Regions from separate parts of the Homo sapiens genome. Here region 2 is linked to region 1. The links come from fine-mapping of genetic effects on gene expression. A gene starts in region 1. The other region holds a variant in brackets. All regions are shown on one strand. Distances are from middle to middle. Region 1 holds the start of UNC45A (unc-45 myosin chaperone A). Region 2 overlaps CRTC3 (CREB regulated transcription coactivator 3).

What was found. PIP is the estimated chance that this variant, and not a neighbour inherited with it, causes the effect. A credible set is the group of variants that fine-mapping cannot tell apart.
Region 2: its variant is the best candidate, but not a certain one, in a credible set for the expression of UNC45A in esophagus muscle (GTEx, PIP 0.81).

The regions. Positions count from the first base shown.
Region 1 is chr15:90,932,243-90,937,621 of GRCh38, reverse strand. UNC45A (unc-45 myosin chaperone A) reads right to left here and starts at 2,337. Exons shown (of 20, transcript NM_018671.5): 1 at 2,247-2,337; 2 at 1,917-2,078; 3 at 1,640-1,676; 4 at 1,162-1,337. The coding sequence starts at 2,297. HDDC3 (HD domain containing 3) reads left to right here and starts at 5,073. Exons shown (of 4, transcript NM_001286451.2): 1 at 5,073-5,193. The coding sequence starts at 5,082. RefSeq lists a silencer at 2,122-2,521 and enhancers at 3,152-3,251, 4,876-4,925.
Region 2 is chr15:90,544,195-90,549,573 of GRCh38, reverse strand. The region is part of intron 2 of CRTC3 (CREB regulated transcription coactivator 3); the gene reads right to left. Among named protein-coding and RNA genes, the nearest start is that of CRTC3, 17 kb to the right of the region's middle. The variant A/G (reference allele first, on the strand shown) is at 2,462.

The DNA of each region.
Region 1 (5,379 bases):
CCAGCTACCTGGGGGACTGAGGCAGGAGACTCACTTGAACCTGGGAGGCAGAGGTTGCAGTGAGCCAAGTTCGCACCACTGCACTCCAGTGTGGGCGACAGAGCAAGACTCCGTCTCAAAAAAAAAAAAAACAATTATTTTCCTTTGTATTTACATACCCAAGTGTACCCACAGAAAAAATATAGCATTGTTTTGCTATGTAGGGGATCATTAACATAAATGATATTATACTATATGTGTTATTGTATATTTTTCTTCTTCTTTTCTTTTTTGAAAGAGACAGGGCCTCACTCTGTCAGCCAGGCTGGAGTGCAGTGGCACGATCATAGCTCACTGTAACTGCAAAATCCAGGGCTCAAAGGACTCTCCTGCCTCAGCCTCACAGGTAGCTGGGACTACAAGGGTGTGCCACCACACCCAGCTAACTTTTTAGGTTTTGGTAGCAACAGGGTCTCACTATGTTGCCCAGGCTGGTCTCAAACTCCTGGCCTCCAGTGATCATCCCATCTTGGCCTCCAAAAGCACTGGGATTACAGGCATGAACCACCATGCCCTGCCTATTTTGCTTTGTTCATTCAACAAGTGTCCCAGAGCTTCCCATTTCAATATGTGTGTATCTACCTATTCTCAGTAACTATATAAGAGTCTGTAGTAAGGACATTACCCATTTATTCAGCCATTCCTCTATGGCTGGGCATTCAGGCAAGTTCCAAGTTTTTCTTACTACAAAAAAGGCTGAAATAAACATACACATGTCTACTTGTGCACGTGGACAAGGTTTCTCTGAGAGAAACAGCAAGAAGTAAACATATGGGATCACAAGATACGCTCATTTGAAATTGAATAGATATGCTAAAGTACTCTCGAAAAGAGCTGTACCAATTTATACCCCTCCAGCAGTCATCAGAGAGCCCTTGGCCCCCAGCCTCACCACTGATGTGTCTGCCTCTCTCCTTCTCGAAAAGTGTACAAACTTTTAAATATCTGCCAGACAGACCTCCAAATCAACAGTAATGTGCTGTCATCTTAATTTGCTTTTCCCTGGCCACAGGCAAGGTTCACTTGCCACCGGGATCTCGTCTGGAGAACTGTGTCTACACCCCTGGCCCAGACCCCTTCACCACCAGTCAATGCTTCCACCTCTCTGGGTCACTCACATACCTTCTCCTGAATCTGGCCCCCGATGTTCCGCAAGGCCTCCTGGAAAACTTTGTTCTTGGGCTCCAAGCTCACACATCTCTGCAGGTCAAGGACAGCCTGGTCCAGGCGGCCCAGCTTCTCTAGGGCTTGGCTCCGCCGGTAGAGTGCTTTGACATCCCCACCATCCTTTTCAATGGCTGAGCACAAACAGGAGCGCTGTCAGCACCCATGAGGCCACTGTCTCCAGGCAAGAGCAGTAGGGAAAGATCTCGAGGAAAGGCCAGAAGAAGGTGGGGGGGACGAATGTGGGGCTCGGTGCTTCAGCCTCAGAAAAGGTGAGGGTAGCTGCAGAAAAGGAAAGGCCCGAGGCAGTGGGAAAGAAAGAAGGCAGATGTGTCTCTGGGGCCAAAGGAGGAGAATGTGACGGTGCAGCGGTCCCAGAGTCCTTGCCCACCACAGAAGCCCTACAGCTCCACACCAGGGCCCACCATTCCCCTACCTTTGGATGCCTCTGTTTCTGCTTTGTCGTAATCTTCCTGTAAGAGAAAGACAGGAGCCTGAAGGAATGGTCATCTCCCTCTCGGGGCACTAACCAGGCAGCAGGGGTACTCTCGCTCTCCAAGGTCACCCGATCCCCCACCACCCTGAGGTGCAAAAAACATCTGGCAAGCGGGGATGGCCTGGGAGCGTGAATGTCCAGCTGGGGCCCAAGCATCAGCTTAGATGGGCGAACCGGGGCCCGGGCGGGCGAGGGGAAGAGCGCCAGGCTCCCTCACCAGCTTGAGGTGGCAGGCGGCCCGGTTCCGGTGCAGAACGGCCTGGTCCTGGGGCGTCGCGTCCAGACCCAGGGCCTGAGTGTAGGCCGCCAGGGCGCCCCCGTAGTCTCCACATTTGAACAGCTCATTGCCCTCCTTCCGCAGCTGCTCCACTGAGCTGGCCTGTAGAGAGAAAGGGGGCGGAAACGTCGGAGGGGGTTCGGGGCAGAGCCCGGGAGCTAAGGGGAGAGGAGAGGAGGGATCGGGGCGAGCCTCATGGATGGGGAGAAGGAGGCCAGGGATGGTCAGGGCGGGTGCGAAGGGGTGATGGCGCGGGGGTTGGGTACGCACCCCGGGGGTGGCCGGCCGGGGCTCGGGGGTCCCTGGACCACTCACAGTCATCGCGGAGAGGTTGTCTCGTGCCCGCGCAGGCGCAGTCTCTGGGGCGGGGCGAGTCTGGGTTCGGGACGCCACCGGCAGCTGCCCCGCCCCACTCTTGCGTCGGAGGTGGGGTCAGAGAGGGGCAGGGCTAAGGAGGGAGCGCGCCCGGGCAGGGGCGGGGCGCTTGGCTCTGGATCGCAGGTGCAGGCAAGCTCCGGGCGCACCTAAGCTGTCCCCGCAGAGACCTGCAGGGAGCTCGCGGCGGAGGACCCAGAGGGAGGCCTGCGGTGGCTCCAGCCCAGACTCCGGCCCCGACCGCAGCAGAAGTGCACGAGGTCTACGGTCATCAGGGTCACAACCAGTAGGTTGTAGAGGCCCAGCACTAGGAGCGGGCCTGGGCCCCTGCGGGAGAGAAAAAGTATCTGGATCCCGGCCCCGACCGCGCTCTCGCTGCTGCGCTCTGTGGGGGGTACAGAATCCCTGGGAGTCCGGAGAAAGCTCAGGACTCCCTCCCCAAATAAGTGTCGTCTTACATACACACATTTGCATACGAATTTAGGAGCTCATCCTAGAGCCACCCATGGGCAGATTCAGGATGGCTCCCCATTACCAGCTTGCACAGCCCCCTGAACTTCTCCTTTGTAATTGTAATCATGATCTACATGATTTTCTGTTGCGGTCTGTCCCTTCACTAGTCTGTAAGTTACAAGCCTACCACCCCATAATTTAGGAACAGAGCCCCAGATACTGGAACACCCTGTCGATGTTCCAGTGGCTCTGGGGTTGGAGATCTCACCTGAGGATGGGCGGGGGCGGAAGAGCGGACAGATTGACTTGGTACAGGGCCTCAAATTCAGCCCGGGTGCAGCAGGAGCCCCCTGCAGCCTGCAGGTGGCAGCAGTAGGCTTCCTCTGGAGAATCAGACAGACGAGGGCAAAAGAAACCAGGGTAGTGACGGCCATGGACATCCCGGGTGGTCTGGCACAAGTGAGGGTGGTGGACCAGAGCTGAAGAGAGAGGTGGGGGTGCTAGAGACAAGCAGGAGGGGCCTTTCCACAGCTCACTCCACCCCTACTGGAGAGTAAAAGAGATCAGCCCCTACCAGAAGAAAAGATGCCCTTCCACCCATCCCCATCAGTTCCAGTTCCCAGGAATAGCCCATAGCACCAGAGGCAGGTGGGCCACAGGGGTAAGTGCTGTACCTGAGAGAGAGGTTGGCTGGACAAGGGTCACCCAGCTGAAGAGCAGCAGTAGCCCCACAGATAGGCCTGTCAGCAAGGGGCCTGACCTTCTCTGGATGCCCATGAGAGTTCACTACCACCTCTGTCCTGGTCCTGGGAACCCCAACATCTCTCTTTCTAGGCCGTGACTGCAGACAATAAGGAAATAAAAGTCAAAGCCCCAAGGCCCTTGGGCACCATTAATACGAGCCTGAAGCTTCTCTATCACAGGCTTTTAGAGAGAGATGACAGGGACTGGGTTTCTGTCTCCTGTTGGAAAACGTGGGGCCTGCATTGCCAAACTGCTGAAGGAGAGAAGGCTCAAAGGACTAGAGGACAGAATGAGGGATGAGAGAGCAGCTGAGCCATTAGTATGAAGAACAAACAAGCATTTACAGCCAAATATGTTTCTACCCATTCTCCAACTTCCAGGCTGCCATGGAAGCTCTGGGAATTCTGACCCTCCTATTTCAGGTCCCAGAGACCTCAGTTCCAGCATGTGGGGCTTCCCTCCCTAACCTCTGCTACGTGGCAACCACCAAGACTAGCTGAAAACCAAGGGTGACTCCTTTCATTAGCCTTTCCCCTGAGCCTTATCTGCCCCAGCTACCAGCCAGAACACAAAAGCTACATGTCTGATTAGAGTATACTTAGCTAATAGGGAACCCCCTCTCACAGAGAAGTTCTATGGGGATCACCAGGTCTCTCTTACCCCTCAGCTGCCCCTAAGGCAGGGAATTTCTCCAGAAGGCCACCAGCCAGCAGAATTAAGTGTTATTCCAGTGCCTACCCAGGCCTGACAACATCATGCTCCCAGGACAGCAGTGACAACACTCATCACCCCAGGGGCCCACAGAAGATGCCTAGAGACTGAAATAGGAGCTCTCATAGCATAAGAAGACAAGGCAAATTTCATCTGCAACACTGAGGACAAACAAAGGCAGTTCCTGCAGAAACGTCACAGCTACCTGGGAGCCTAAGTCTGAAGCAATTAGGCAGGGCTCCCAGGGAAGGCTCTGATTTTTCAGGTCAGGCCCTAGGGTCTCCTGGAGGGTCCAAAGGTAGACTCCCCTGCCCACAGAACCTGGCCCATCCCTACAGGGAGAACTATTTTTAGAACACTTGGAGAATTTTCAGAGCTTTTACAGGTTGAAGATGGTTCTTGGGGGGAGCTTCTGGGAGAAGCTGTCTCTGACTCTGAGGGTGTGGGGATTGTTCTTTCTTCCCGCTCCCATAGTCCCCTGAGCCTTGGCCACCCTGGATTCAGAGCACTGTGAGGCCACTGCCTTATTTCTTGTCTGTCTTCCTCTTTTCCACAGACTGTGGGCTCCCAAAGAGCCAGGCTTATGTTCTTCTTGCACCCCCAACAGAGCACACTGAGCTGGGGGCTGCGATGCTGAAGGCAGCTGTCCACATCACTTGCTCTCTGCGCGGGCCGGTCAGCTCCAGAGGAATTCATCTGGGGCAGGCCCAACTCGGCCCGCTGAATTAGCCTCCACGATCCCCGGGCCTCCCCGGCGCCAGGGGGCGCTGTAAACGTTCCGTCCCTGCCCCTGCGGCCGCAGTCGTCGGCCCCATCCGCGCGATGGGCTCTGAGGCGGCGCAGCTGCTGGAGGCTGCCGACTTCGCGGCTCGCAAGCACCGGCAGCAGCGGCGGAAGGACCCCGAGGGGACCCCCTACATCAACCACCCCATCGGTGGGCGCGTCGGCCGCGGAGCGCCGGCTGCGGCACCTGGGTGGTGGGGACTGGGAAGGAAACGTGGGGGGCGTGCACCTCATTGAGCACCTGTTTTGTCCCAAGCTTAGTGCGATATACCGTTTAAGCCTCATAACAATTGGAACGGTAGGCATGATCGTTCCCTTTGTCGGTTGGCTCCCAGAG
Region 2 (5,379 bases), 390 kb after region 1:
CAACTCCTGGGCTCAAGCAATCTGCCCGCCTCGGCCTCCTAAAGTGCTAGGATTACAGGCGTGAGCCATGGTACCCAGCCTGCCTGATAGTATATCTAATAGTTATTAAAAAGGCTTTAAAATTTTCAAATAGCTGGATTTTTAAATTTAAATTTAATTATTAATTGCAATTTTATTAATTATGTTCAGATTCAATTTCTCCTTTTTTAATTTACTGAGAATTTATTTGGCCCAGTATGTGATCAATTTACACTACACACACACACATACACACACACACACACACACCATGAACAAAGAGTGAAAACAACCCAAACAATAAGGGGGCAGTGAAACTGTGGCATATCCATGTGACAGAATAGCATGTAGTCACTAGAAATACTGTTTCTGAAAACCATTGAACACATAGAAGGAAAATACAAAACTATACATACATATGAGGCTGATTTTGTTAAAAAATATTTATAGTCACTGCAAAACTACTGAAAGAAAAGGCCAAATGGTGAAAAAAGATGTAACCAGTTTTCTGTAATAAGCAAGTGTTACATTTATAATCAGAAAAAGAAGTATTGCTTTTAAAATGAGTCTAGAAATATCTAGAAAGGTATCTTACCTTTTTAGAGAATAAACTCTAGGGAATAAATTTTGGTATACAGTAATTCTGATTTGTTAATGGTGTAACTCTTTATTATCTTTATTTTGAATATTGGCTCAGTCGTAGTGAATTAAAAATCTAGAATTGTGCTATTGTCGAATTCTCATTTCTTGGAGTTTTTCCTTTTTGCAATTTGTTGCTATGTTGTTTTATCACATAAAAGTCATATAATGCTATGACAATTACCATCTACATAGAGAGCTTAACACAGTGTCTGGCACATAGCACATACTCAATAAATGTCAGCTGTGGTTAGTAGTGGTATTTTGAGATTAATACTGCTACTTAGGTTTTCTTTTGTTTAACTGATGTATCTTTTTGCCAATCTTTTTTTTTCCTTTAAAGAACCTTATGAAAACTTGAAAGGAAATGCAGTAAAGGAAAACCATGGAAATGGAACTGGAAGTCAAAGACATGATTTTTAAGTCCTGGTTCTCTTACTTACTTGCTATGCGAACTCTGGGCCTCATTATACTACTCATATTGGTAGTGGGCCCCAGGAAAACCACCTTGCTGGACCTGGCCCTCCAGGCCTTTGCAAACTGCCTTGGTATAAGGGTTTCTTCCCTTGACCATCAGATTGTTCCCTAAATTAGAACTTAAAAGCCCTCAGTTACACATGACATGATGCAATTTTGTTAAAATGTAGTTAATCAGAGATGTAAAAAGTACAATTAGTTTTTAGTGATATGATTTGAAAGGACTAGGGTAGGTTATATAAAGGATACGAGGCTGGGAGTGGTGGCTCACACCTGTAATCCTACCACTTTGGGAGGCCACGGCGGGTGGATCGCTTGAGCTCAGGAGTTCGAGACCAGCCTGGGCAACATAGTGAAACTCTATCTCTACAAAAATACAAAAACTGGCCGGGTGTGGTGGCTTACGCCTGTACTCCCTGCTACCCTGGGGGGCTGAGACAGGAGGATCCCTTGAGCCCAGGAGGTGGAGGTTGCAGTGAGCCAAGATCACATCATTGCGCTCCAGCTGGGTGACCTTGAGACCTTGTCACAAAAAAAAAAAAAAAAAAAAGGATACGAAAAGCTACAACTATACCTACAAAGCCCTATACAGAGAGAAGCCCTTTGTCCCTCTCTCTACAGCTGCCTGACAAGCCATTCAGTCAACATGTGCCCTAGCTGTTACACAGGCTGGAACATGCTATCCCTCCACTAAGCAGAAGAGACAGCCCTAGCCCTCGCTCTCAGAGAAGAAGATAATGCCCACTTCCTCCTCTCTGCCCTCAGTGTATGTGTGCCAGGCCCTGCCTAGAGACATGAGGGCTATAACCCTAGCTACCCCTTTACTGATGGTCTGCCCCTTGCTAAAGATTATCAGAAGGCAGCCTGAAAAGTTGGCTTTTGTTTACTCATCTGATAAGTCTACGTTCTTTGCATAAGGGCTCATTGGGTTAGAAAAAAAGAATGCACTTTGAGATCCTCCATTAGGATAGAAAATTGGTCTTTAGTATATTAAAATAGTACTACACTTACCAACCAATGTTGTAGTAAGAGGATGAAGTAAAATAACAGATATGAAAGCATTTTGTAAACTCCAAAGTGATTTACAAACATAAAAGGAGTAGACAGGAAGAACAAGTTCAAGATATCTATAGTACATCATGATTGCTAAAGTTAATAACAATGTATCATATATTGCAAATTGCTGAGAGCAGATTCTCACCACAAAAGAAATGATAATGATGTGAGAGGATGCATATGTTTGTCTGATTTAGCCATTCCACAAGGTATACATTTATGAAAATATCGTATCGTATACCATAAATATATACAATTTTGTCAATCAAAA[A/G]TATATCAATATAATAAAAATAAAAGGAGAATTGTATATAAATGATTATAAGCAACTGAACTTCAATAAAAATCTGTTTTTCTGTACATGGAAGTCTTCTTCGTGGAAGACTCCATATTATAAAGATGTCAATTATCCCCAACCTATCTATAGATTCAATGCAATCCTGTTTAAAATCCTAGCAGGTGTTGGCCGGGCGTTGTGGCTCACGCCTGTAATCCCAGCACTCTGGGAGGCCGAGGCGGGTGGATCACGAGGTCAGGAGATCGAGACCATCCTGGCTAACACAGTGAAACCCCGTCTCTAATACAAATACAGAAAAATTAGCTGGGCGTGGTGGCGGGCACCTGTAGTCCCAGCTACTCAGGAAGCTGAGGCAGGAGAATGGCATGAACCCAGGGGGCAGAGCTTGCAGTGAGTGGAGATCGTGCCACTGCACTCCAGCCTGGGCAACAGAGTGAGACTCCGTCTCAAAAAAATAAAAATAAAATCCTAGCAGGTGTTTTTATAGACATTAACAAGCTGATTCTAAAATGTTATGGAAAAGCAAAGGAATGAAAATAAGCAAAACAGCTTCAAAAAAGAACAAAGACGACTCTCATTACCTAATTCCAAGCCTTCCTATAAAGGTACAGTAATCAAGACAGTGTGGTATTAGCAAAATGATAGACAAAGAAACCAATGACACAGAAGATGGTATTAGCAAAATGATAGACAAAGAAACCAATGACACAGAAGAGTCCGGAAATAGACCCACATGTATATGGTCAATTGATTTTCAACAAAGGTACCAAGGCATTCAATAGGGAAAAGAAAGTCTTCATCAAATGGTTCTAGAACAATTTAACATCCCTATGCAAAATGAGTGAGCCTCAAACCCAAACCCTGTACCACACAAAAAAATTAACTCATAATTTACTTAAGTGTAAAAGACAGAGCTATAAAACTAATAGAGAAACACATAGAAAAAAAACCTTCGGGAACTTGAGTTAGATGAAGAACTCTTATTAATAGATAAGACAAAAGCACAAATCATAAAATAACACAATTGATAAACTAGACTTCAAAACTTAAAACTTCTACTCTTCGAGACTTGAGAAAATGAAAAAACAAGCCACAGACTGGGAGAAAATATTTGCAAAATACATATCTGATAAAGAACTGGTATCCAGAATATATAAACAACTCTCACAACTGATTAAGAAAATTAACAACTCAATTTAAAAACTAGACAAGGCCAGGCGCAGTGGCTCACGCCTGTAATCCCAGCACTTTGGGAGGCCAAGGCGGGCGGATCACAAAGTCAGGAGATGGAGACCATCCTGGCTAACACAGTGAAACCCCGTCTCTACTAAAAATACAAAAAAAATTACCCGGGCGTGGTGGCAGGTGCCTGTAGTCCCAGCTACTTGGGAGGCTGAGGCAGGAGAATTGCTTGAACCCAGGAGGCGGAGGTTGCAGTGAGCCGAGATCGTGCCACTGCACTCCAGCCTGGGCGAAAGAGTGAGACTCCATCTCAAAAGTAAAAAAAAAAAACAAACAAAAATTAGCCAGGTGTGGTGGGGCGCGCCTGTAAACCCAGCTACTCAGGAGGCTCAGGCAGTAGAACTGCTTGAACCTGGGAGGCGGAGGCAGCAGTGAGCTGAGATCACGCCACTACACTCCAGCCTGGGCGACAGAGCGAGATTCAGTCTCAAAAAAAAAAAAAAAAATTAAAACCACAATTGTCATATGATTCAGCAATCCTACTTCTGAGTATGTACCCAAAAGAATGGAAAGCAGAGCCTTGAAGAGATATTTGCACACCCATGTTCATAGCAGCATTATTCACAATAGCCAAGAGGTGGCGGCAACCCAAGTATCCATTAGCGGATGAATGGAACAAAATGTGGCATCCACATACAATGAAATGTTACTCAGCCTTGAAAAGGAAGGAAATCATGTCACAGACTATAACACGGGTGAACCCTGAAGACATTATACTAAGCACAAGCCAGTCACAAAAAAGACAAATAGTATATGATTTCCCTCATATGAGGCACTTAGAATAGTCAAAGTCATAGAGACAGAAAAAACAGTAGTTGCCAGAGGCTGGTGGGAAGGGAACATGGAGAATTCTTATTGAATGGGCATAGAATTTCAGTTTTGTCAGATGAAAAAATTCTGGAGATTGGTTGCACAATATGAATGTATGTAATACCACTGAACTATACATTTAAAAATGGTTTTAGAAGATACCAATAAACTACTTTAAAAAATGGTTAAGATGGTAAATTTTATGTTCTGTTTTTTAACCACCATTTTTTTGAAACTCTGAAATACCAAGTGCTAGAGCAGATACAGGGTCGCTGGAACTCTCATGCACTGCTGGTAAGAATGTGAAACAGTAGAGCCACTTTGGAGAACAGCTTGGCGATTTCTTATAAAGCTAAAGTTAATATACACTTACTGTATGATCTAGCAATTCCACTACTAGCTACTTACATAAAAACTGTATGTGAATGTTTATAGAATATTTATTCATAATTGCCAAAAGGTGGAAACAACCCAAATGCCCATCAACTAACTGATGAATGCATAAATTATCTACATCCATAGAATGGAATTCTACTCAGCAATAAAAAGAAATGAACTACTGATCAATGCAATGTAGTGGGTTAAATTATGGCCACCAAAAGAGATATCTTCAAGTCCTAAGCCCCAGAACCTGTGAATATGACTTTATTTGAAAACAGAATCTTTGCAGATGTAATCAAGCAAAGGTGAGATCATATTGAATTAGGGTAGGCCCTAAATCCAATGACTAGTTCTTTATAAGAAAAAGGAGAGGAAGATTTAAACACAGACACAGACAAACAATGAAGAAAGTCGTGTGATGACAGAGGCAGAGAGTAAGTGATGCAGCTACAAGTTAAGGA